Homo sapiens: one gene and its partners. The protein of the gene in region 1 interacts with the protein of each later gene in a pairwise test. Each region holds a gene or a part of one and is shown in the gene's direction. Other genes may lie near its edges. The genes, in order: NUPR1, CAPN2, NACA and MPHOSPH6.

Region 1 (3,844 bases):
CAAACTCCTGGCCTCAAATGATCTGCCCACCTCAGCCTTCCAGCCTTTGGGAGGCCAAGGAGGGAGGATCGCTTGAGGCCAGGAGTTCGAGACCAGCCTAGGCAACATACCAAGGCCCTGTCTCTACAAAAATTTAAAAATTAGCAAAGCATGGTGGCTCATGCCTGTAGTCCTAGTTGCTCAGAGGCTGAAGTTGGAGGATCCCTTGAACCCAGTTGGAGGCTACAGTAAGCCATGATGGTGCCACTGCACTGCAGCCTGAGCAATAGAGTGAAACCATGTATTGAAAAAGAAAGAAAGAAAGAAAGAGAAAAAGAAGGAAGGAAGGAAAAGAAAGGAAGGAAGAAAGAAAAGAAAGAGAGAAAGGAGAGAAAAAGAAGAAAGAGAGAGAAAGAGAAGAAAGAAAGAAAGAAAGAAAGAAAGAAAGAAAGAAAGAAAGAAAGAAAGGAAGGAAGGAAAGAAAGAAAGAAAGAAGGAAAGAAAGAAAGAAAGAAAGAAAGAAAGAAAGAAAGAAAAGAGCGAGCCCCGGCACAGTGGCTCACACCTGTAATCCCAGCACTTTGGGAGGCCAAGGCAGGCGGATCACCTGAGGTCAGTAGTTCGAGTTCGAGGCAGAAGTTGTGGTGAGCCAAGATCACGCCATTGCACTCCAGCCTGGGCAACAAGAGCAAAACTCCATCTCAAAAAAAGAAAAAGAGAGAGAAAGAAAGAGAGAAGGAGGGAAAGAAAGAGGAAGGAAAGGAGGGAGGGAAGGAGGGAAGGAGGAAAGGAGGGAAGGAAATATTAAGGGATTTGCCCTAGCTCACTCAGGGCTCATATTCAGGGATCTTATTGTCTTCAGATATGAGGTGGGTCCCCAGGCCAAGGGGGCTGTGGGACAGGGTTCTGGGAAGTGAGATGGGGGAGGGAGATTCTTATTCAGTGCTATGTCTCAGGACCAGAGTTGAAGAAAAATATGGGGCAAACAGGAAGTGTGGTTGGAGCTGAGATTATTTGTTGATTGAGATACAGGTTTGGGTTGCTATTATGAAGAATCAAAACAGGATACAAAGTTACTCCTCTCTTACTTAGCCCCAAGTCCTCCTGGGTTCAAATGGCAGCTCCATTGTGTTGAGGATTCCAGCTATTTTTACTCACTGTTCTGCCACACCCAAAACATGGCTTCCACTTTGAGGCCCAAAATAGCTACTCCAATACCTGCCATCACGTTTGCATCTCAGCCTGTGGAAAGAGTGTGGAAGAGACAGAGGAGGCCACACCTCTTCAATTTTAGGGCATAATCTAAAAGTAGAACACATCACATCTGCTCCGAATGTGGCTACATGGCCACACCCAACTACGAGAGAGGTTGGGAAATGTAGCATTGAGCTGCTTAGCCACGTGGTAGCCAAAACTTGGGCAACAGCAGGGTTTTATGATGAAAGGGAACCAGAGAGAGTGAATACACGAAGAAGCTAGCAAGAAACATTGCCCACATGCAGACTCAACAGATGTCGGGGGAGAAAACTCTGAGATTGGGCCCCGGGCAGAGCCTGTTTCCTTTTCCCCTGTCCCTTTCACATAAGCCCCACACTGCAGAACTTGGAGTCAGTGGTTCATGGGGACCCAAGGACATCCACAGAAGACCGAAGTACCTGATAGAGCAGGAACAGATGCACGTCAGACTACGACCAGCTTGAACCCTTGGGGACCTGTATCCATCCCCTTCCCTTGAGTCCAGCCTAATCACAGCCACAGAATGAATCCATGACCCGGAAGGACATTTAAGGACCTCTGGCCCAACTCTCCCCACGCAACAGTGGGATTGCCTCTGCTTGTTTGAATACCACTATGGAGGGGGAACTTGCTACATTTAAAGGTTGCTGAATTTTTTTGTTTTGTTTTGGGAGATGGAGTCTCTCTCTGTCGCCCAGGCTGGAGTGCAGTGGTGTGATCTCGACCCACTGCAACCTCCGCTTCCTGGGTTCAAGCGATTTTCATGCCTCAGCCTCCCTAGTAGCTGGGACTACAGGTGTGGGCCACCACACCTGGCTAATTTTTGTATTTTTAGTAGAGACGGGGTTTCACCATGTTGCCCAGGCTGGTCTCAAACTCCCGACCTCAGGTGATCTGCCTGCCTTGGCCTCCCAAAGTGTTGGGATTACAGGCTTGAGCCACACCACCCGGCAAAGGTTGCCTAATTCTATCTCAGGGCAAGTCTGTTCATGTGGGCTGAAATCTGTCTCTCATACCTGCCCTTAAATAAGCTTCTGTTTTTCTGGTCCTTTCTGTCTGAGATGACTTTAATTCCTCCCCCGACCCCATCTCATGAGGCTCAGCTTAGATGTTTCCTTCTCTTCCTCCCTGATGGCTGCGTGCAGAAGCTCATACCTGCAATCCCAGCACTTTGGGAGGCCGAGGTGGGAGGATTGCTTGGGCCCAGGAGTTCTAGGCCAGCCTAGCAACACAGCAAGACCCTCTCTCTACAAAAAATTAAAAATTAGCCAGGTGTGGTGGCTTGTGCCTGTGGGCCCACCTACTCAGGAGGCTGAGGTGAGAGGATCTCTTGAGTCTGGGAGGTGGAGGCTGCAGTGAGCCATGATCTCACTCCAGCCTGGGCGTCAGAGTGAGACCTGTCTCAAAAAAACAAAAACCAAAGTTTTCCTTAACTTGCAATCCTCCACCCATCTCCTGACCTCCACCCCAGGCCGACCCTCCTCTGGGATCACACGGAAGCCTGGGCCCAGAATCTTACAGTCTACCTTGGAAATCCTTCAGATTTTGCCTCCAACTCCTCTTTCCATACAAGTTACATATTAACTCAATCAATGCTTATTGGATGCCTTCTGAGTTACCAGGATGCTGCTGGAGGCCTGTGCTGCTGAGAGGGACAAATAGAATCCTGATATGACTGGAACCAGGAATAGGGCCACCATCAGCTCTAGAACCCAGGGAGCAAATGGCAGGAGCAACACCAGGCAGTCGGCCCTCAGCCCAGCACAGACCTGGTGTGTTGGCTTCAGAAAATCCTGGAAACATCTCTGCTGTGTTTGGAGCTCCTATTCTGTGAGAAGTGTTTTATAGGCTTTGCTCCATTTAATCCTTACGATAACCCAATAGGACATACTATTAATGATCCCCTTTTTTTCAGACCGGAAAACTGAGGTTCGGAGACATTAAGTAATTTGCCTAAAGTCACACAGCCACATCCTGTAGGACTTGGAATTATGAACTCAGGTCTATCTGAATTTTAAAGCCTGGATTTTTCCCCCTTTGCTACATGCCTGGGAAGAACCATGTATTGACAATGAAGAATCCTAAACTCTCGTTAATTTCTGGTCAATTACTCCTCTGGGCCTGGGTTTCCTCACCTGTCAAATGGTGAGACTGGCCTCTCTTCTGTCAAAAGAGAAAATGAAGGCTGGGAAGCACTGTGTCCCTAGCTGGAATGGCCACTCCCTGTCCTGGGTCCTTTGACACCAGCCAGGAGTCCTCACACACTGCCCCTCCCTCCTGGCCTCTGATTGGCCTTTCCTGGCCTCGCCCTCGCCTGGCACAGCCTCTGCCTGAGAGGCCTTTAAGTGGCTGTTCTGGGAATTAAGGCAATTCTTGGAATTGCAGAATTTTTGGATCCGAAAGGATCCTACCCAGACTCTTCCTCTTCTGTCTCCATCCCCTTTCCTAAACCCTTTCTTTTTCTTCTGGTTGCATGTCTGTTTCCCCATTTTGGGGGGATCCCCCTGAGAACTAGAGAAATCACTGACCTCTGTCCTACCCCAGGGGCTTACAGAATTGGCCCTGTCAGGCTTCTGTAACTCAAAGGACTCCCGACTCCTTGCAGAGAACTGAGAAACTCACCATGGGG
Region 2 (7,033 bases), on another chromosome or scaffold:
GGTTAGCCTTGCAGCAGGAGGAGCTGCTCTTCCTCGGAGAGAGGATTTCACAACACTGGCAAGAGTGGCTCCAGTGCCTGGAGCGGGGATTAAAGCAGTAAGTCCAGTGGGGTCCAAGGGCCATGCAGGGGTACAGTGAGGAGAAAGCAGGTGTGATCCGGGTGGCACATCAGATCCTTCCAGCAACCAGTCTGTTAGGAGCAAGGGCAGATGTTGTGAGCCCCTATGTTTCCCCCAAGAAAATCAAACCTCTGAGAGGTTTCTCACTTGCTTATCTTCAGCTGGCCGAACTCAGCCTCAAACCCATATGTCCTGTCTCCAAGTTCAGTGACTGTTATCATCAACTTCTTCAACAGTAATAATAATAGATCACATTTATGGAGTGCTTGCCAGGGCATGTTTACATCATTATCTCATTTAACACTCAGAACAATCCTCTGTGGTGGGTGTTTTCATCGTTCCCATTTTGCAGGTGAAAAAACTGAGACTTCAAAAGGTTAAGTGACTTCCCAGGGTCCTACGACCTACATAATAAGTGGCAGAGCCAGGATTCAAACCTAGGTTATCAGAATAATGCAGCAAAGCCCAAACCCTCAGCCCCTTTTCACTGACTGGTAAGACCCATATTTAATTCGATGCCCTACATGCCGTGCACAAGTTTCAGTTTTCTGAAGCATCGCTTAGATGCTTAGGTGTTTAGCACCACTCTGAACTCTGACTTTTCTAGAGAGGCTGCTAAAGGCATTAGAAAGTTTCTGAAGTATAATGGAAAAACCCTGCTGGAGTAAGTGCCTGGCACACTCAGGATTATCAGTGTGATTCTTTATAATAAACAGGCTCCCAGCACCAAGCCCAATCTATTCCATCAGCTGGATAAGAGCTCTCTGGCAGGCCTTGGGCCAAGCTGGCTTCCTTTGCCTCAGCAGAAGAGCATTCTGATTCTCTCTGCCATCCCCAAAACTGACAGGAGCAGAGAGAAACAAGGCAGAGGCATGAAGGGAATGTCCTCTGCGGCAGATGGTGCTTCCGGAAGAGCTCCCACAATCTGAGCTAGAATGAACAGGGGCTAGATCCAAGTCTCATATAGGCATACTTCTGCTTGACAGAGTGGGCATGCCGAGGGCCGTTGGGTGGAGGCAGGCGTGTGCAACCCAAGCAGACATGAGACGCAGCTCCTTCAAGGCAAGGTTGCCTGAGCCCAGAGAGGCTCAAATTTGTGCCCCAACTTCCTCTGTGGCTTTTGGGTGGGGCTCTTCAGAATCGAAACACACTCAGAGGGCTGCTGAAAGGGCTAAGAAGTGTTCAAGGTTGGCTTCCATCAGGCTGCTCATGACAATGGCCCCTGAGGTTTTAACACCCTTGAACGCTTGGTACTAAATCAATTAGAGGCAGGGCAGGAGCAGAAAGAGTTGGCGCATTTGATCAGTAAGTTCCAATGCCAGTGCTGTCTATTATCTGTGAACTGTGTTAACTTTGGACACGTCACTTCACCTTTTTGAGCTGTTTCCTCGTCTGTAAAAGGGGGATAATACCCATTCCATGAGGTAAAGCTTTGAGCACAGTCTCTGATGTAAGCAGGTACAGAATATATAGATGCTGTAAGTTTCATGGTCCCATGGAAGAATTCAAAAGGGTTAGATCCCGCCTGCCCTCAAAAGGGTATGTGTTAGGAAATCAGAGTAATACCTAAGTAGTAAATTGCAGAGTCCAGAGACTCTGGGACTCAGACTTGAAGGGATGAGTGAGGATTGGACTAGGACGACTTCACGGAGGAGGTGACAATGAGCCTCAAGGTATGATGCAATATGGAAAAGGAGGGAAGAGAGTGGGAAAGGAAGGAATTTCATGCAAGCAAAACAACTTGCATGCAGTAACAGAGGAGAGAGGATGCTAACCCAGTGGATAGGGTGGCTCTAGAGTGTGGATGGTCTCCACGTCTGGCAGAAAAGGCTGGACTTGCTGCTGTGGCCCCCGGGACACAGCACAATGAAGGAGGCTCCAGGCAGTCCAGAGTGTGCAGGGTCCAATGCCTGCCCTTCTCAGACAGGACCACCCATCCACCCATCAGGGCCCAGGGAGCAGGGGTCAGAAGGACCTCATGACACAGAGTTCTGACTGTGATGACACACTTTCCCCAGAGGGGAGGGGAAGGGGAGAAGGGGTTAGAAGACCCCACTGAGAATGGAGGCATCCTAGCTGCAGAAGCACCTGGCTGGTAGGCTAACAGCACTTTGTGGGTCTCGTTCCCAGGAGATCTGCGCTGACCCCCAGTTTATCATTGGAGGAGCCACCCGCACAGACATCTGCCAAGGAGCCCTGGGTAAGTGATAGATTCAGAGCAAGCTGGGGGATCTTGTCTGTAAGGCTGTGGGTGGAAGAGATGAGGGACAACCTGTGGCTTCTCTCCCTTCCCAAGCAGCTTGGCAATTTCTATTTGCAGAGAAGCTCCATGGAATTTCTTGGCCCTAGCGGGCAATGATTCTACCCTCAGCCCCATGCTGGGGCACACAAATGAGGCCTCCTGTGTCCCCTGCACAGGGCTAGTTGCTGAGGTTACAGAGATGCTGCCACTAGGAGGACCAGGGGGCTTCTGGATGTCAGCCACCCCTTGGTATGCACCTCCTGGAGCCAGCATTACCAGTGGTTCACGAAATACACTCTGGGCAGAGGACTAGGTGGGAGGACTCCCCCAGACCAATGACAGCACTGAGACATCAGTTCTGTGAGGTTCAGGAACCAGGGAAGGTGACTCAGTGTAAAGAAAGAGGAAACTCTAATGCTCGCTGCTGAAGGAAGTTATAGTACCAGGGCATTCTCAGTGTTTGCAAGACAAGCTCACCATGGTATCACAGTTGTAACGCTCATTTAAGTAAAATGAACTGGAGTAGCTGAATTGTCCAAAACCTTGCTTTCTGGAGCCGAGTTCAGATTTGTTTCTGGAGATAGTCCTTGTTGAAGGTTTCAACCCACAGGGTTCTCCACCTTTAGTATGAAAATTCCCAAAGCTTCTAGGAAGTCCCAGCAATGGGGCCTGGCGCTGTTATCTAAGATTCTCATAGAATCTGCCCTCAATGTTCTTTTACTCATAATAAATGTGGGCCTATAATTACTAGAGCAGATTATTTGCTCTGATAAACCAAAAATCTATTTTCTGCCATCAGCCTCAGCTGGCTGGCTCCCCAGACAAGTTCATCAGTAGCAAAATCAGTCAACTAGAGTTGTACCTCCTGTCCTCACCCACCTAGCAGAGGTTCTGTTACTCATATACTCCTAATACCAGCTGATAACAGCTAATATGTATCTCTAAGGCACCGTGATTATTCCCATTTTATAGATGAGGATGCAGAGGTCTTCCTACAGCTAAAGTGGTGGCTGGTACCCCTGACCCCAGGGTATGTTTAATTCCTGAGCTAGACTCCCTAAGACGGGACCTGGAAAATTTTCTAGCCCTGAGGAATGTCAGAGCATCATGTGAATCATTAGGACAGACAGACTGTGAGGAAGAACATGAGCTGGGCGGGAAAGTTTGTCTGAGCTCAGGCTCTGCAGATTCCTGAGATGCCAGAGCACATTCTTACCTGCAGAAAACACTCCTTTCATTTCTTTTCTTCTCGCCCCACAAAAGACAGAAGATAGAGGTCCTTGAGCACCCAAGGCGGATCCTCCAGGAAAATCTATTCATTAGAGAAAATGGAATTGATGGAAACTTTGACCAACCCCGGGGGCTTTAGAGAATCCAGAAACAGCCGGCGCAGTGGCTCACATCTGTAATCCCAGCACTTTGGGAGGCCGAGGCAGGCAGATCACCTGAGGTCAGGAGTTAGAGACCAGCCTGGCCAACATGGTCAAACCCTGTCTCTACTAAAAATACAAAAAAATTAGCTGGACGTGGTGGTGGGTGCCTGTAATCCCAGCTACTCAGAAGGCTGAGGCAGGAGAATTGCTTGAACCCAGGAGGCAGAGGTTGCAGTGAGTAGAGATGGCACCACTGCACTTCAGCCGGGGTGACAGAGAGAGACCCCATCTCAAAAAAAAAGAGAGAGAATCCAGAAACAAACACAGCAACTGCCTAACATCTGCTTCAGAGTTTAACAACACCTTAAGTGCCAAAGTGTAAGCAACAAATACATGATTTAAGTCCTGTGTAAATACCACTGGGCCAATTGGAGAGGAGATAGCAAAGGTTAACATTCCTGGGAGAAATTTCCCTCCCAGGGGAATTATAAACCAGGTGAAATGTAAACCTTTTAAAAATTTCTTAGTAGCTAGTCTGTAATTTCTCAGGGGTGTGTGCGTGTGTGTGTGTGTGTGTGTGTGTGTGCGCGCGCGCGCGTATAATGCAGTATTGGTCATTTTGTTCTTTCAGCCTTTTATTTTGGAGGACTCTAGTTAGATCACAATCTGTGAAATGTGGTATACTGTACTCTCACCCTGATTCTGGCACCTGGCCAGCGGGTGCTGATGGGGCCTTGACCTTCACCAAATCCCAACAGCCTCACAAGCACCAGGAACAGAGGCCATGGCAGTGACACTCTGTGACATGGCCAGAGATATGAGCCTAGACTCAGCTCTGTTGGTAGTCCGAAGACTGGGCAAGTAATTACCTGGAACTTCCATCTGGAACCTCCGTCTCTTCCAAAAACGGAGAAGGAAGGAGGGTAAATGGAGTGACCTCAGACACCCCCTATGAGTTTGTATTCAGCTATTCTAAAGCCATTCCCGGGTTTCTAACCAGCTACTCCTCATTCCTTGTGCTAGAGGGTTAGAGCACTACAAGATCATCCTTATTTTCTCTCTTTCTCTCTTTTTTTTTTTTTTTTTTTGACAGGGTCTCACTCTGTTCCCCAGGGCTGGAGTGCACTGGCAGGATCTTGGCTCACTGCAGCCTTGGCCTCCTGGGCTCGAGTGATCCTCCCACCTCAGCCTTCTGAGTACCTGGGACTACAGGCACACGCCACCACACCTGGCTAATTTTTGTATTTTTTTGTATAGACCGGGTCTTGCCATGTTGCGCAGGCTGGTCTTGAACTTCTGAGCTCAAGTGATCCACCCACCTCGGCCTCCCAAAGTGCTGGGATTACAGGCGTGAGCCACTGCGCCCAGCCAAGATCATTCTTTTATTACACACAGAAGGAGTAATAACAGTACCCATCACCTGCATAACAGTATGCAATTCATAGAGCATTTTTTCACTACAGTATTTCATGTACTCATCCCAAATCTAAAGTAAATATTCTCACCTCACTGTACAGATAAAAAAAAACTGAGCCACAGAGACGGGAGAGTAAGTGTAAAGCCACACAGCTAGTAATTGCCAAAGGATTGAACCCTGGTCTGATTTTGAATCCTACACTCTTCCTAACCCATGCTCCCTCCAATTTGCCATAGTGCTGTGCTGAGGAACCATTCTCAGCAAAATTCATCTTCTCTACCTGCGCTTTCTACCCTGAGCCTTACTCAGTTCCCCCAGGGAACTTGGGCAGGTGACATTCTTAGACTTGTGCACTTTGCAACGCCCTGCCCTGTTTACTGTGCTGCCCAGCAATGTTTAATCCACAAACACCCACGCTCCTTCCCAGAAGGCTCAGCTTCCAAGCTTCACCAAAGTCATTTAAACCATGTTTACAGAGCTGCTCTCACCAAGAGCCATCTCCATTGCAGAATATAGTTGTGTAAGAATTGATTCAGCAGAGAAAAATCTGCCCTTCTGGAGGAAGGGCTGGAGACCCAGCTGGAGCCTCCACTGGCTGACCCTGCAGCTAAATATGGCTCTGAAATCGTGGGGTAATAACCACATTCTTACAGGTGCTTGCCACTTGAAATGGCTCCCAAGGACCCAGGAAACTCCAAGGCTGAGCTGCTCCTACCTCTGATGCTTTACTTTGCACTGGGTCACCACTGAGCTTTCCCCACAGCCTCACAGCTCACGGATGAAGGCAGCTACCCCAGCCAGGAAGGCATAGGTCACCTTGCAGGCCTCTGATTTCCTGGGGTAGAGCCCAAGGCTGCCAAGGCTGTTGAAACAGCACACCCCCATTTCATTGTAACCCAGCAAATGTTCCCTGGGCCCCTCAGAGGTGGGTCAACCTGCCTCCTTCTCAAGATGTCACATGGACCCCCAGAGCACCCACTGGGAGGTGTTTAGCTACAGGGTGCCCCACCCCACAGCCTAGCTCAGCAGAGAGTGGGGAAGGGACAAGACCAATGGGAAAGGCAAGCCAGATGGGGAATTTTCCAGTCCTGTTCCTTCTACCACTCATTAGCCACTTATTTGGACCCAACCCCTCTGAGCCTCAGTTTCTTCTTCTGTGAAATGGGAATAATGATAAGGATCCCTTCCCAGGGCTGTGGAGAAAAGTGAGATTTATACAGGCAAACACACTTGGCACACTATAGAATCCCAGACAAATTCAAGGGACCAGGATTATCATTACTGATTCCAGTTATGTGAAAAGTCCTTTTGCCAAATTGCCGAAGAAAAAGAGGATGGTGGAGGAAGAGAAAAGGAGGAGAAGAAAATAAGTTGGGTTGGAAACCAGATCCTTGTCCTTGAAAATTTCATAATCTAAGGGTGGAAATGCCAAAACGAGGAGAGACAAACTTGTGGCCTGTGTTTGGGTAACACACAGATTGAAACTCAGAAGGAGAAACATATGGGGAGAAAATGAACACAAAGGGGTCAGATGTGCATTCCTCAATTTTAAAAATTGAATATTTAAGTGTTTTAAATAATTTTTATTTCTTTTCCTTTCTTTCTTTTTCTTTCTTTCTTTTTTTTTTTTTTTTTTTTTTTTGAGACAGGGTCTTGCTCTGTTGCCCAGACTAAAGTGCAGTAACAAAACCATAGCTCACTGCAGCCTCGACCTCCTGGGCTCAAGCAATCCTCCCACCTCAGCCTTCCAAGTAGCCAGGACTACAGGCACGCACCACCTCACCTGGCTAATTTTTGTGTGTGTCTGTGTGGAGATGGGGTCTCACTGTGTTGCCCAGGCTGGTCTCAAGTTCCTGGGCTCAAGCAATCCTTCTGCCTTAT
Region 3 (7,102 bases), on another chromosome or scaffold:
CTAGAAACAGTGGGTCGATTAAAACTCCTGAATACAAAATTACTAGAGACTCATTATTCCAGAACTAATCAGTAAAGAACTCAGAAGGAGAGTGGAAAGACTGGTATGCTTTTAAAAAGAGACTTTTTTTTTTTTTTTTTTTTTTGAGACGGAGTCTCACTCTGTGGCCCAGGCTAGAGTGCAGTGGCGCCATCTCGGCTCACTACAAACTCCACCTCCCAGGTTCGCGCCATTCTCCTGTCTCAGCCTCGTGAGTAGCTGGGATTACAGGTGCGTGCCATCATGCCCAGCTAATTTTTTGTATTTTTAGTAGAGATGGGGTTTCACCGTGTTAGCCAGGATGGTCTCGATCTCCTGACCTCGTGATCCACCCGCCTCGGCCTCCCAAAGTGCTGGGATTACAGGCGTGAGCCACCACGCCCGGCCTCAAAAAGAGACATTTTCAGCTTTCATTATCATTTTATAAATATGTCTAGCATTGAAGTGCCTTAACTCCTGGGCTCAAGGGATCCTCGTGCCTCAGCTTCTGGAGTAGCTGGGACTACAGATATGCGCCACCTTGCCAGGCTTACGTTTTATTTTGTTGTGGAGACGGGGTCTTGCCATCTTACCCAGGCTGGTCTCTAATTCCTGAGTTAAGCAGTTCACCTGCCTTGGCCTCCCAAACTGCTGAGATTACAGGTGTGAGCCACGGCGCCCAGCCAATGTTTAGTTCTTAAAGACAGCAAAAATATACCCAAGGACTACTGACTTCCCCTTTTCTTGATTTGCCAATTCAGTCACATATTAGAACTGTAGAAACAAAGGGGCAAAGAAATGGCTTCTATCTTCAAAATTGCCAACTTAAGAAACACGCTAGCCGGGTGTGGTGGCTCACACCTGTAATCCCAGCATTTTAGGAGGCAGAGTGGGCAGATCACTTGAGGCCAGGAGTTCAAGACCAGCCTGGGCAACATGGCAAAACCCCGTCTCTACAAAAAATACAAAAATTAACTGGGTGTGGTGTTGTGTGCCTGTAGTTCCAGCTACTCGGGAGGCTGAGGTGGGAGAATCGTTTATGCCCAGGAGGCGGAGGCTGCAGTGAGCCATAATCACCCCACTGTACTCTAGCCTGGGCAACAGAGCCAGACCCTGTCTCAAAAAAAAAAAAGGAAAAAAAAATACATCCTTCCTTGGCTAGTCATTACTACAGAGAGAGGAAAAAGTAAGTGGGCTTGCTGGGGAAGAAAGAAAAATTGTGAATATGTACTTTTGTCTAAGGAAATTGGCTATTTCTGGTCCTTCTGAAGGTAAATGGACTAAAGGACTGCATTGAAAATCTTCCAGATCATGTATTTATTAGGTAGAAATTGATTATGTCTACAATTTAATAGTAACAAACTTTTTAAGTTTTATGTAAAGATTACATGGGATAATTTTATGAGATAGACTGTTTCTTTTTCCTTCCAATTAGAGTGTGAGTGTGTGTGTGTATATATACACACAGACTAATTTAATCTTCCAAACAATCCTATCAAGCAGCTACTATTTTTCCCATTTTACAGATCAGGAAACTGACATGAATATATATATAGGTTAATTGCCTAAACTGACCTAATAGATTTAGACAAAGGAGTCTTATTTCAGAGTCTGTCTTTAATGACTCCACAATATTGCCTCTCCTATTTGAGGAGGATTTCAGAATTTCCCATTCCTGGTAAACCCCACTATCTCACTTAATTTTAATTCACCAATCCTAATCCTCATTTCACTACGCTAAGGATTTCAGAAATGTTAAAGTAGCTTTCAAAGCATTTTAAATTTTCACTGCTTCCCTTAAAAGGCGGCCACACCAGGTATGGTGGCTCACACCTGTAATCCTAGCACTATGGGAGGCCGAAGCGGGTGGATTGCCTGAGCTCAGGAGTTCGAGACCAGCCTGGGCAACACGGTGAAACAGGAGAAGTTTTGTGGCAGGAGAATTGCCAGAATCCGGGAGGTGGAGGTTGCAGTAAGCTGAGATCGCGCCACTGCACTCCAGCCTGGGTGACAGCGAGACTCCGTCTCAAAAAAAAAAAAAAAAAAAAGGTGGCCACAGTCGTCTTAAAGCTATTAAATCAGGCCAGGCATAGTGGCTCACACCTGTAATCCCAGCACTTTGGGAGGCTGAGGCAGGCGGATAACCTACGGTCAGGAGTCCGGGCGGGGAGGCGGGTACCTATAATCCCAGCTACTCTGGAGGCTGAGACGAGAATCGCTTGAACCCGGGAGGCCGAGGTTGCAGTAAGCCGAGATCGCGCCACTGCACTCCAGCCTGGGCGACAGAGCGAGACTCCGCCTCAAAAAATAAATAAATGTTGACTGGTTTAGCTAATTCAGGTACAGCAAATATTTGTTGAGTTCTTTTGTAGGGCTGTGGGAAGATATGGGAGGCTTTTCATTAACACAACACTGATTTTACATTCTACTTTTCAAAAATACAGTTGTACAAAGCATGGTTTAAGGTGGGGTCCCAGACACCTAGAATAAATAAGCTTAGAATATCCAAGAAGTGCCAGGGGCGGTAGTTCACGCCTGTAATCCCAGCACTTTGGGAGGCCGAGGCAGGCGGATCACCTGAAGTCAGGAGGAGACCAGCCTGGCCAACATGGAGAAAGCCCGTCTCTACTAAAAATACAAAAAATAGACTGGCGTGGTGGCGCATGCCTGTAATCCCAGCTACCCGGGAGGCTGAGGCAGGAGAATCGCTTGACCCGGGAAGGGGAGGTTGCAGTGAGCCGAGATCGTGCCTTTGCACCCCAGCCTGGGCAATAAAAGTGAGACTGTCCCAAAAACAAAACAAACAGGCTGGGCATGGTGGCTCACGCCTGTAATCCCAGTAGTTTGGGAGGCCGAGGCAGGCGGATTACCTGAGGTCAGGAGTTCAAGACCAGCCTGGCCAACATGGTGAAACCCGTCTCTACTAAAAATAAAAAATTAGCCGGGGGTGGTGGCACACACCTGTAATCCCAGCTACTCGGGAGGCTGAGGCGGGACAACTGCTTGAGCCCTGGAGGCGGAGATTGCAGTGAGCCGAGATCGTGCCACTGCACTCTAGCCTGGCCGACAGAGCGACTCAAAAAAAAAAAAAAAAAAATCCAAGAAGTGCCCAAAATAGCAAGCAAAGGAATTGTATATGTGCCTATGTTCTTTTTTTCTGGGAAGGAGAATCTGCAGCTTTATAATTTCAACATCGGCTAAATTGTCGTGAACCTAAAACAATCAAAAGGGCCGGAATCTATTTAAAGAGTTTATTCAAGGGCAGTGTGAGGATGGACCAACCAGAAAACCTCCAAAGAATGGAGTCAGCCTTCAGAAGTAGAGAAGTTACGATTTCATTTATTTAGGGAGACAGAGGAGTTTTTAGCTGGATTACGTTATCCATACAAGGTTGGAACATAATTACAGAATTTGGTTACAAGAAGTGTTTTTTTTGGGGGGGGGGCGGGGGTACAGCTAACATTGTTTTACGAAGAGTTTAACACGCATGAGTTGCTGTCATCTGGTGACATCGTTTGAGTCTCTCTAGTCATTGAACAGAACAAGAAAAATCGAATTAAATTTATAATCTGAACTGAAGTTATATGTGACCCATCACATCTCTCAAGTTTTAAAATGGGTTTTTTTGTTGTTGTTGATGGGGGGGGAGAGGGTCCAGCAGCTTTTAAATGTTTTCACATCGTGTGTTCCAAAAATAACTGGTTAGCCTAAGTCACTTCCACCCTCCAATGTTGTGAATGCAGTCTCTAGCATTCGCTATTTAATGTCTTCTTCCTGCACTATTTGAGAAATCGCGAGGTCGACTTAATACCGCAGTCGCCACTTCGCGGACCGGAGGGCGGAGTCTGCTTAGTTCTGAGGACTGCGTGGGTCCGCGCAGAGAGCTCCTGCTAGGCCTGCGCGTCCCGTTCTAAATTCTTACCCTTTAGTCCTTGTCACCACCCCCGCCGTGGGAACGGCCTGACAGTCACTCGTCAAAGGAAGTGGCTGCCGGCAGCTCTTGACCCGGAATCGGATCCTAGTCCCACCCCCTCCGCTCCAGGCTTCCTTCTGCAACAGGCGTGGGTCACGCTCTCGCTCGGTCTTTCTGCCGCCATCTTGGTTCCGCGTTCCCTGCACAGTAAGTACTTTCTGTGCCGCTACTGTCTATCCGCAGCCATCCGCCTTTCTTTCGGGCTAAGCCGCCCCGGGGACTGAGAGTTAAGGAGAGTTGGAGGCTTTACTGGGCCACAGGGTTCCTACTCGCCCCTGGGCCTCCGGACAAAATGGGGTCTGCGGTTGGTGTCCTGGCAAAAGCAGGGTAGAAGGGCTGCGGGGCGGGCCCAGAATCCGAGCCTGCAGAGATGGGAGCAGTTGCAGTGTTGAGGGCGGAAGAGGAGTGCGTCTTGTTTTGGGAACTGCTTCACAGGATCCAGAAAAGGGTAAGGGGTCACAGCCTTAGAACCTGTAACACCGTTCTCCCTGTGACAAGCAAGTGTTGGACTTAAAACACCGTCTTTCCCCTCCTGGTACCCCAAAGTCGGCAAACGTAGTCCAGGAGGCCCCAGCCCAGCCAGTGTGAGTATTAGGAGTGGAGGGGGTTCACAGTAGCGTCTGAAGTCTCCCATGATCGAGAGCCAGCCCGGGATCCTCTCCCTCGGGTTGAGAATGCAGTGGGAATTGCTGGCCTTGATAGAGGCGTGAGGGTCACATCATATTTACCTCTTATTCCCAGGTGCTTTGGGGAAGGTTGTCACCAAACACCCTCACGATTTTTTTCTAACAGCCCTCCTCGGAGTTTTTAAGAATACTTATCTCCGGGTTGGGCAAGTGAATGTATCCCAATCAATTTAGGCCTCCTTTTTATTCCCTTCCTTCAGAAATGCCCGGCGAAGCCACAGAAACCGTCCCTGCTACAGAGCAGGAGTTGCCGCAGCCCCAGGCTGAGACAGGTAGGTTTCCCTACCCTCCTTGCCATTAATTAAAATTAACCCTAAAGCCATTTGGTGGGCAAAATGACCAAGGGGAAATACACTTTTTAGGAGGATGGGGTTGCAGCTTTACCAAGGAGGATAGACCGTAAAATTACTATCCTGGAGATACTTCTTTAGGGATTTGGAGTAAAAATAATATTTTTAAGATTCGTGGACGTTAAAAGTACCCTAGCTTGCTTTCTATGTTATGCCTGTCGCCTCAAAAGAAGCTCTCCTGTGGAACCCCCACCTCACATAGGAAAACTCAGCAGGGAATGGGCTCAGTGATTCTTACCTATTGGAACTAGATGACACAGGCCAAGGAGCCCGGAGCATTTGTGAAACTCCAGCCAGCAAGTTGCATCAAGGTTTTAGTTAGCAGAGCTTGGCATTGTGCCTTTATCACATGTCTGGATGAGATGTGTGCTGGTGGTAAATGTGTCCTACTGGGCCCCAGAGTCGTCCTAGGTCGGATAACTTGTTTATGGGTTGGTGGTGCTGAGATACTTCTAGTGTGCTGGAATAGTTCCTGCATCATTGTGTGAAACCCAGGATTGAAATAAATCCTTTTATCCTCAGCGTCGAAATTAACGACTGTGAAGGCTAATTTTAAATTCTGGTTAAAACATATCTCTGTAGAAAACTTAGGAGGAGGTAATGAAAAGTTCTTAAAATGATAGCCTTTCTGAGTCAGTTGTGCAGCGTTAAATGAAGGAAATCTTCAGGCTGTAATTTTCATTCTCACCTTTTTGGTTTTTTTTAAATTTCATTTGTTATTTAAGGGCAATTCCTGTCCCTTTTTGGAGTTACAGTAGAGTTGCTTATAGTTGAAAGCATAAAGTTTCTTCCCACCTGTTTGATTTTAACAGCTGAAGGGATTAATACAGCTGCTAGGAAGGACAATAGGGGGCTCTAAGCTGGAGTATAAACAATATGAAATTCTTGAAGTACAAGGGGCTTAAGGAAGGGAAAAAATAAAGTACTGTTCTCTAAAGATTCTGTAATTTCAGTACAAAACGAGATTTTAGAGATTGTGTCATTGAACAACTTAATTTTACAAATACGAAGATTTGAAATTCAGATGAATTTAGAATAATCTGATTCAAGCTTCAAAACTAATGCATTTACTTCTGAAACAGTCCTTAATGCTATTAAACGTATTCCTGAATAGTCTGAGTTGCATAGTAGGCTTATATTAAGGAAGTACCAATGATAAATACACAAGGTTTTATCTGTAATGATAGTCTATTAGAATGAAGAAGGAAGCTCAAGGAATTGTTGATGGTGTCAAAGCAAGTATTTGAGTGCTTATTCCATTTGAGGTCCAGTCAGAAGAAAACATATTCCATGTTTTTAATTCTGATTCATTATGTTTGGTAGCGTTTTCCTGTAATCGTTAGACTTTGGCCTACCCACTCTCCAGGAAAAACTAGTTGAGCCACCTTGTCTTTTCCATGGTAGGATGCCATAAGAACTTCAGAATTACTGGTTGAGTGAATTTTGAATTTGAATTTTGGTACCACGGGCTTCCCCCCCGCCCCCCTTAACATTCCCTTCTAAGCATTGAGCATTTGTTGATCCAATTCTGTGTTACCTCCTGAATGCCAGAGATACTGTCTTACTGTCATGCCAAACATTGGTGTATTTTGACATAATGAAACACTTAAATTCCAAGTTAAGGAGTGGGGATCCAGTGTATTCTCGCCACTCCAATTGTCTTCTTTGGTTTGTTTTGTTTTGAGACGGAGTCTCACCCTGTCACCCAGGCTGGAGTGCATGCAGTAGCGCGATCTTGGCTCACTGCAACCTCCACCTCCTGGGTTCAAGCCATTCTCCTGCCTCTGCCTCCTGAGTAGCTGGTATTACAGGTGTACACCACCACGCCCAGCTAATTTTTGTATTTTTAGTAGAGACGGGGTTTCACCATGTTGGTCAGGTCGGTCTGGAACTCCTGACCTCGTGATCCGCCCTCCCAGGCATCCCGAAGTGCTGGGATTACAGGCATGAGCCACTGTTACAGGCTCTCCAATTCTCTTCTTCCAAAATAGCACCACAATCTGGTTTAACAAGTTAGGTTACAGTTTCATAATACAGTCCCTACCCTTGTGAGTAAGCTCTCTGCCTGGAGGTCT
Region 4 (7,626 bases), about 54 Mb from region 1:
GAATAAATCAGGGAAGCAGAAAGAGGGAGCACATTTTGCGAGATGGATTTGATGTTGGACATGAGTTCGGAACTCACACTCAACCATTTGTCTGTCCTTCCAGCTGTCTCAACAGAACTCTCATCCTGCTTTAAGTGGATATGTCCTTGGCATTGCTGTTGTGGCTAGTATAGTGACTATCTCTGAGGAACAGCACCCAATTTCTCTTTAAAGAATTACCCTCCCCCATTGTGTATAGTCTTCTTGAAATTGTAAATCAGGTCCTGCCCTCCCTTAGCTGAGACATAACAAAACTCTCTCCTTGATTTTGAAAACTTGAGTAAAGTGTCCAAAGAGCAGAGAAATCAATTGGTGCTCACCATTCTTGCTGTGTCATTAAGTTCCTTGGAATGCCCTGGTTTCTGTTCTTTTAACTTAGCCTTGTTATCAAGCCTTCTCAACACCTATGAACTACCCAGTATCCTTCTAAATCACCATTTTGTTTAACAAGTCTTTTCAATATCTGGTACCTACAAACAGACAAATGAACAAAAACTAATACTTAATATACCACCTTCATTGTCTCATTGCATAAAAGAGTTCCTTCCTGTGCTCACCCCAGATTCTCCTCCAGTTTCTGCACTAGGAAGGTATGCATAGCCATTGCAGTATTTAAAAAAAAAAAAGAAAAGAAAAAAATGCAAGCCACACATGTAATTTTATATTTTCTAGCAGCCACATTTTAAAAAGTAAACAGAAACAGATGAAATTAGTTTTAAGGCTATATTTTATTTAAACAAATATATCTTTATTATTAATATATAATATGAAAAAATATTGAGATTTTTTTTAGAGTAAGTCTTTTGAAGTGTGGTATGTCTTTTACACTTACAGCACATCTCAATGCAGATGCTAAATTTTGAAAAGTTAAAGTGATATATGTTCCTTCCAAAACAATATAGCCTCATATACAGAAAAATAACTCACACTGTTACTTTTAACATTTAAATTGCTGGGCATGGTGGCTCAAGCCTATAATCCCAGCATGTTGGGAGCCCAAGGCAGGCAGATTGCTTGAGGCCAGGAGTTCGAGACCAGCCTGGTCAACATGGTGAAACTCCATCTCTGCCAAAAATTCAAAAATTAGCTGGGTGTGGTGGTGGGCACCTGTTATCCCAGCTACTCAGGAGGCTGAAGCATGAGAATTGCTTGAACCCAGGAGGCGAGGTTGCAGTGAGCCAAGATTGCACCACGACACTCCAGCCTGGGTGATAGAGCAAGACTCTGTCTCAAAATAATAATAATAATAATAATATAATAAAATTTAATTTAAATTAACTAAAATATTCAGTTCCTCAGTTGCACTAGCCCCATTTCAAGTGCTCACTAGTCACATATGACAAGCATCTATGCACTAGGCACCACAGCCTTAGATCTGCTATGGGAGTGAAGAGTCACAGGGAACCTTTTCTTGATGGATATAGTAGTTGGCAGGAATTGGAGGCTTTCATACTTCCAACAAATTCCATTATGACAGGACTCAAAACTGTGTGAAGACCTATTTGAAACATTTCTTCCCTCAAAATGATGTTTCTTTGGCTGGGTAACTACAACAGGTTAACACATTATTGATTGTGAGATCTATCCTCTGTGCTCTGCAATTCAGGTGCATAGAAAGATCAAGGAATTATCTTGTCAGGTAGTTTTCAAAGTTAAAATTACACTATTACTCTTAAATCACTTCTCATTTATAACATGTTGAGGGGTGGGAAAAGACTTGGGGGATTCATTTTAATTATAAGGATTTTCACCATCAAATAGAAAAATAGAATTTTGAGTGGCAGGTTGAAGAAGGTGAGCTTTATCTCTCAGACAATAACAGATATTGTAAATTTTAGAGTGAAAGAATAACATAATAATGTCAATGTTTCAGAAAAACAAATCAGAACACAGACTGGTACAACAGGGGTCCATAGAGAAGGTGTGGCGCTTCCAGCATCCTTACATGATAGATATATGCTCTTATTTCGCCGGGAATGCTGTTTTCCTCTTCTGAAGCTGACAAGACATGTGTTCATCCTAGTTCAGTCGCCCCTTAGTTTCCCAAGTGCAGAAGGCAGACTGAGTCACTTCTCCCTTCACCTCTACTCTCACAGCAGTTCTTTGAGAATCCCACAGAAAAACCAAACTTATAGAGACAGAAAGTAGTCGTGAGGACCTGAGGAATTAGTGTTTAATGGGAACAAGAGTTTTCATTTTGCAAGATGAAGAGTCCTATGGTGGTAAAAGCAGCATAACAATGTGAATGATTGGTGGGCCTTTTCCCTGATTAACTCCTCTCTACGTTTAGGAGAGTCCTCATTTCCAGGCCAGAATGGTTTAGGTACCCTCGTTGTACCCTTTCATGACCCTCAAACTTTCCTTACCGGGCTCTCATCACAACTGTCATCTACAGCTAATTGTATGGTATATTAGTCTGCTACGGTTACTATAAGAAAACACTACACACTGGGTGCCCTATACAGACTGGTTGTGATTTTCTCACAGTGCTGGAGGCTAGAGGTCTAAGATCAAGGTGTTGGCAGGTTTGGTTTCTCCTGAGAGATTTTTTAAATTTTTTTTATTTTTTTGGCTTTCAGATAGTCTTTCCTTTATGCAAACACAACCTTGGTGTCTGTGTCCAAATTTCCTCTTCTTATGACGACATCAGTCAGACTGGATTAGGGCTCACCCTAAGGGTCTTGTTTTAATCACCTCTTTAAAAAGGACTGTCTCCAAATACATTCACATTCTGAGGCACTGGGAGTTGGAACTTCAACATATGAATTTTGGGGGATGCAATGTGGCTTATGATTAACCTCTACTGTTTCCACTTGTAAAACTTTTAACACGGACTTTGTCTTGTTCATATCTGAGGACCTTTACAGTTGATGCTGTCTTCTGAGCACACTCTACCTCCAACTCTTCATAAAACACGTTTTTCTCAACTTTCAAGCCTTAGCACCATCATCTGACAAGGGCCGTTCCAAACCACCTGGTCTAAAGTAACCCTAAGCGTTACTCTGTCACATCACTGTTTTCTCTCTTTCATAGCAGTCGCCACTTACTTACGTCCAGAATATCAGCTTCAGGAAAGGTGGGGATATGTGTTTTTACACGCTATTATACCCCCGGCATCTCACACACAGTCACAAGTGAATGAGATTCTGTAGCCACTTGGTACATTACAATGATTTTATTTACCCCTGGGAAAACCTAAAGGGCTTTTAACATCCAAATCGGTGTTTGAATTTCAGCTCTAACATGGATTAGCTGTGTGAACACCAAGTGCGTTACCCACTCTGTGTCTCAGAATCCTTAACAACACGATGACAATACCTTCTTTCCGGTTCTTATGGGGATTAAGTGAACTAATTAGCCCTAAGGTGACCAGGTCAACAATCTGACGTAGAACTCATGGTATCAGCCGAGATGCTATTAGCTTGAGGGTGTTCCAAAGCGTCGGACCTGGGAATGGTTTTCGAAAACGTGTTTAGGTGGTACCCAGAGCATTAAACACCAGGGTAGGAACGCTACCCTATTTTCAGTGGTTTTTTAAATTCTTTTTTGTTTTGTTGTTTTGTTTTTGAGACAAAGCCTCACTCTGTAGCCCAGACTGGAGTCCAGTGGCGGGATGTCAGCTCACTGCAGCCTCGACGTCCCGGGTTCCAGTGATTCTCCAGCCTCAGCCTCCCAAGTAGTGGAGACCACAGATCCGTGCCACCACACCCAGCTATTTTTGTTGTATCTTTTGTACATTTTTTGTATATTTTGTATATATTTTTTGTATGTATATTTTGTATATTTTTTGTGTATATATATATATATATATATATATATTTTTTTTTTTTTTTTTTTTTTTTTTTTTTTTGTAGAGGTGGGGTCTCCCTATGTTGCCCCTCGCTATGGTCTTTTCAATTCTTTGGATCAAAACCAGGCTTTGTTCTCATTCATGTGTCTTTGGCACCCATCCCTGCCTCCATCCCTTGCCATTTCTTGAGATTCTTCTGTTTAGCAGAGATCACTCGGCCAGACACGCATCGGCAGCAGCCTGGGAATGAAGCCAGCCTGCCTGGGGCGGCCCCCGCCGCGCTCCCCCGGGACTCCGGGCTGCTGTGAGGAAAGCAGCAACTCGTGGGGTCCTGGTGAAGAGAAAACGACCTGGACCCTGCAAAGCGACCCAGAACAAAGGGAGCCCGCCACCCACGTTATGAAGACAAAACACGTGGGTAACACGGCCCAGGCGGGTGGCAGGCGTGGCGGAAACCTCTCTGAGGCTGGCGAGGACTACTGAGTGTGGAGGGGGTCCCTGAGGAAGGGAGTCCCCGAGGGAGGATGGGCCTCCGAGGGGGCCAGGCCGACGTCCCGGGAAGGCGACCCGCGGCTCGGGGAAGCCAAGTTCTGGGTCGTCCTCTGACTTCGGCTTTTTTGCGGTCTGCCGCGCTCATCCCCGCGCCCGCCACCCCGCGAGCTTACCCGAGCCTCTCAGTCAGCAGAGCGCCCGCTGAGTGGCCGCGCCCGCGCGCAAGACACAGGGGAGGGGCGGGGCGGGGCGGCGCGCACTACGCGAGGGACGCAGCTGCGCACGCGGCTCCGCGCATGTGCGGTGAGGCTCGCGGCCGGAGTGCGGCGCTGGGCGGAAGCTACCATGGCGGCCGAGCGAAAGACAAGGTTGTCCAAGAATCTACTGCGCATGAAGGTGCGGGGACGCTGAGAGCGCCACTCCGGGCGGTAGGGGCACCCGGTCCTTCCAACCTGGCCGGGGCCGAGGCGGCGGGCGGACAAGGGACACCAGAGAGGCCTCAGAGGGCTTCCAGCTCTCGTGCTCATTCATTCACTTAGCGCCTGCTCTGCACTGTTTACTGGGAACCAGCTTACGAATTAGGCCGACTCTCTCAGGAGGCCCGCGGGCGGATGGGAGCTTGAGTACACAGAAGCAGTCAGGGTACAGCTTACCCAGTGCAGTGAGGGTAGAAGCGCTGGGGACCTTGGGGACTCACCGAGCTTCTCGAGAAGTTGTTGCTTACTTATATATGCAATAAATATGATATATGGGAAGTGTAACTCCTTAGCTGGGTAATTTAGGTAAATTCACTTCTTTCTCTGAATATCTCTTTTCCTCATCTTTAAAAAGAAGAGCATTAGGCTACATGAGTTCAAGCTCCTTTTTAATTTTGATAATACTTCTTTTAGTAGAGTTCTTCAGAGAAACAGAATCAACAAGATGTATATGTGTATATATGTGTATGGAGAGAGGGGGTATTTTTAAAACTGGATCACACGACTGTGGAGATGCAAGTCTAAAATCTGCAGGGTGGGCCAGTAGGCTGGAGACCCAGAGAAGTACTCAGTCCAAGTCCAAAGACAGTCTGCTGGCAGAACTCCCTCTTCTTCCAGGGAGAAGAGGGTGAGTCTCGCAGGGTAGTCTCTAGGTTACTGGGAGGGTGGAAGGCACAGCGTCCTAAACTAGGAGAAACTGAGTTCAGAAGTCTGAGAGGCAAGAAAGAAAAAGAAAACCATGGAAATTTCCAAGAATTAGAGACAATTCAGTATGTCTGGAAGGCAAGTACTAAGAAATGGGGTTGCAGAGTAGGCAATGGTCACAACGTGCAGGGAATTTGAGGCCAGATTAAAGATATTTTCCTTTATTTTGTGAGCAATGGAAAGCTATTGAAACGGGGAACAGTATCAAGAAAATGGCAAATATTTATAGTACTAGACAATGATTGAAGTGGTTTGCGTATATTAACCTATGCAATTCACATAATGACACTTTGAGGTGACTACAGGCAGTAACTCTCTTCTTACAGCTAAGGCAACTGAAACAGAAATAAGTAATTTACCCAAAGTTACACAGCTAATAAGTAGTGTAGACAGGACGGGAATTCAGGCAGTCTGGCTCCAGAACCCTGGCTCTTTATTACTACTCTGTACTCTGTGATGCCTGTCACTAAGCACTACTTCTAGAGAGTAGCAAACTGTTACATGTCATGTTTAAAGAGGTGGAATTTCCAAAAGAGGGAAGGAAGCATTCATAATGTTTTGAAAGATAGGCCATTCGCAGTGGCTCATGCCTGTAGTCCCAGCACTTTGAGAGGCTGAGGTAGACAAATCGCTTAAGCCCAGGTGTTTGAGACCATCCTGGGCAACATGGTGAAACCCCATCTCTACAAAAAATACAAAATATTAGCCAGGCCTAGTGGCACGCACCTTTAGTCCCAGCTACTTGGGAGGCTGAGGTGGGAGGATCACTTGAGCTTGGGAGATCAAGGCTGCAGTGAGCTGAGATGGCGCCACTGCACTCCAGCCTTGGTGACACAGGGAGACCCTGTCTCAAAAAAAAAAAAAAAAGAGAGAGAGTAAACATTATATGGGCAAGATTTGAATGGAGTTGAGCTAGGATGGAGTTAGGGATGAATGGGTGAATGAGGGTGGAGGACAAATTGCAGCATAACTTAGAGTTTGTCAAGCACTTTCATGCATATTAGCAAAATTTGAATCTTTACTGAACAGAGTTTGATTTTATGGTTGGTAATAACATTAACTTCAGAGAAGTGGAGTGAATTGGCCAAGCAGATATTGGAAAGATTTTAGCAGTTGTTTTAGCTCTTGGAATAAGCCAGATGATGTACTGGGTGACTCAGGCTCAAACTAAATATCCGAGTTGCAACTAAGAAGAAAGAAATTAACTTAAATGTCCACCCCCACCAAATGGGGAGACTCAACTGGACGTTGGAAGCAAAGGAGAAGGAAAAAGATCACCCACATTCTCTATTTGGTTTAGCAGCTTTGGTCATTGATAAGAAAAAACTTACTGGCAAGATAGCAGGAGACACTGTCTATACTGATAGAACAGAGTATACTGTGAGAAGGCATGGAGTAGCTGCACTTAGGGTGCCTTAACCAGAGCTAAGTCCTATATAGCATGGGTCCCCAACCGCCAGGCCATGGACCAGCACCAGTCCATGACCTGTAAGGAACAGGCTGCACAGCAGGAAGTGAGCAGCGGGCAGGCAAGCGAGCGAAACTTCATCTGTATTTACAGCTGTTCCCCATAGCTTGCATTACCACCTGAGCTCCGCCTCCTGTCAGATCAGTGGCAGAATCCTAGATTCTCCTAGGATCAGAAACCCTACTGTGAACTGTGCATATGAGGGATCTACCTTGCGCTCTACTTACGAGAATCTAATGCCTGATGATCTGTCATTGTCTCCCATCACACCCAGATGGGACTGTCTAGTTTCAGGAAAACAAGCTCAGGTCTTCCACTGATTCTTCATTGTGGTGAGTTGTATAATTATTTCATGACATATTATAATATAATAATAGAAACAAAGTGCACAATAAATGTAATGCACTTGAATCATCCCTAAACCATCTACCCTTCCCCTCTCCACCACCCGTGGAAAAATTGTCTTCCAGGAAGCCCATCCCTGGTGCCAAAAAGGTTGGGGACCACTTTTTAGGCAAGTATAAGAGGGTTGAGGATTTAATCCTGACTCACTTCAATGCCTCTGACTTGGTCAGCCATTGCAGGGTGATCCTAATGGGAAGAAGAAAAAGAAGGATGTGGATGGAAGGTCTTCCAGTATGGAATGGTTGTAGAGG

The links.
Region 2: the proteins of NUPR1 (region 1) and CAPN2 interact in binary tests that used the Homo sapiens proteins (3 or more experiments, as listed by UniProt).
Region 3: the proteins of NUPR1 (region 1) and NACA interact in a two-hybrid assay, tested with the Homo sapiens proteins (one study listed by BioGRID).
Region 4: the proteins of NUPR1 (region 1) and MPHOSPH6 interact in a two-hybrid assay, tested with the Homo sapiens proteins (2 studies listed by BioGRID and IntAct).

Annotation. Positions count from the first base shown.
Region 1 is NC_000016.10:28,532,175-28,536,018, reverse strand, and holds the end of NUPR1 (nuclear protein 1), read left to right. Parts: 3' UTR 1-3,311; downstream 3,312-3,844. UniProt on the Homo sapiens protein: Transcription regulator that converts stress signals into a program of gene expression that empowers cells with resistance to the stress induced by a change in their microenvironment.
Region 2 is NC_000001.11:223,715,512-223,722,544, forward strand, and holds part of CAPN2 (calpain-2 catalytic subunit), read left to right. Parts: intron 1-2,250; coding exon 2,251-2,320; intron 2,321-7,033. UniProt on the Homo sapiens protein: Calcium-regulated non-lysosomal thiol-protease which catalyzes limited proteolysis of substrates involved in cytoskeletal remodeling and signal transduction. Proteolytically cleaves MYOC at 'Arg-226'.
Region 3 is NC_000012.12:56,722,299-56,729,400, reverse strand, and holds the start of NACA (nascent polypeptide-associated complex subunit alpha), read left to right. Parts: upstream 1-4,101; 5' UTR 4,102-4,138; exon of another isoform or gene 4,139-4,439; intron 4,440-4,851; exon of another isoform or gene 4,852-4,877; 5' UTR 4,878-4,879; coding exon 4,880-4,949; intron 4,950-7,102. UniProt on the Homo sapiens protein: Cardiac- and muscle-specific transcription factor. May act to regulate the expression of genes involved in the development of myotubes.
Region 4 is NC_000016.10:82,167,216-82,174,841, reverse strand, and holds the start of MPHOSPH6 (M-phase phosphoprotein 6), read left to right. Parts: upstream 1-4,617; 5' UTR 4,618-4,666; coding exon 4,667-4,717; intron 4,718-7,626. UniProt on the Homo sapiens protein: RNA-binding protein that associates with the RNA exosome complex. Involved in the 3'-processing of the 7S pre-RNA to the mature 5.8S rRNA and play a role in recruiting the RNA exosome complex to pre-rRNA; this function may include C1D.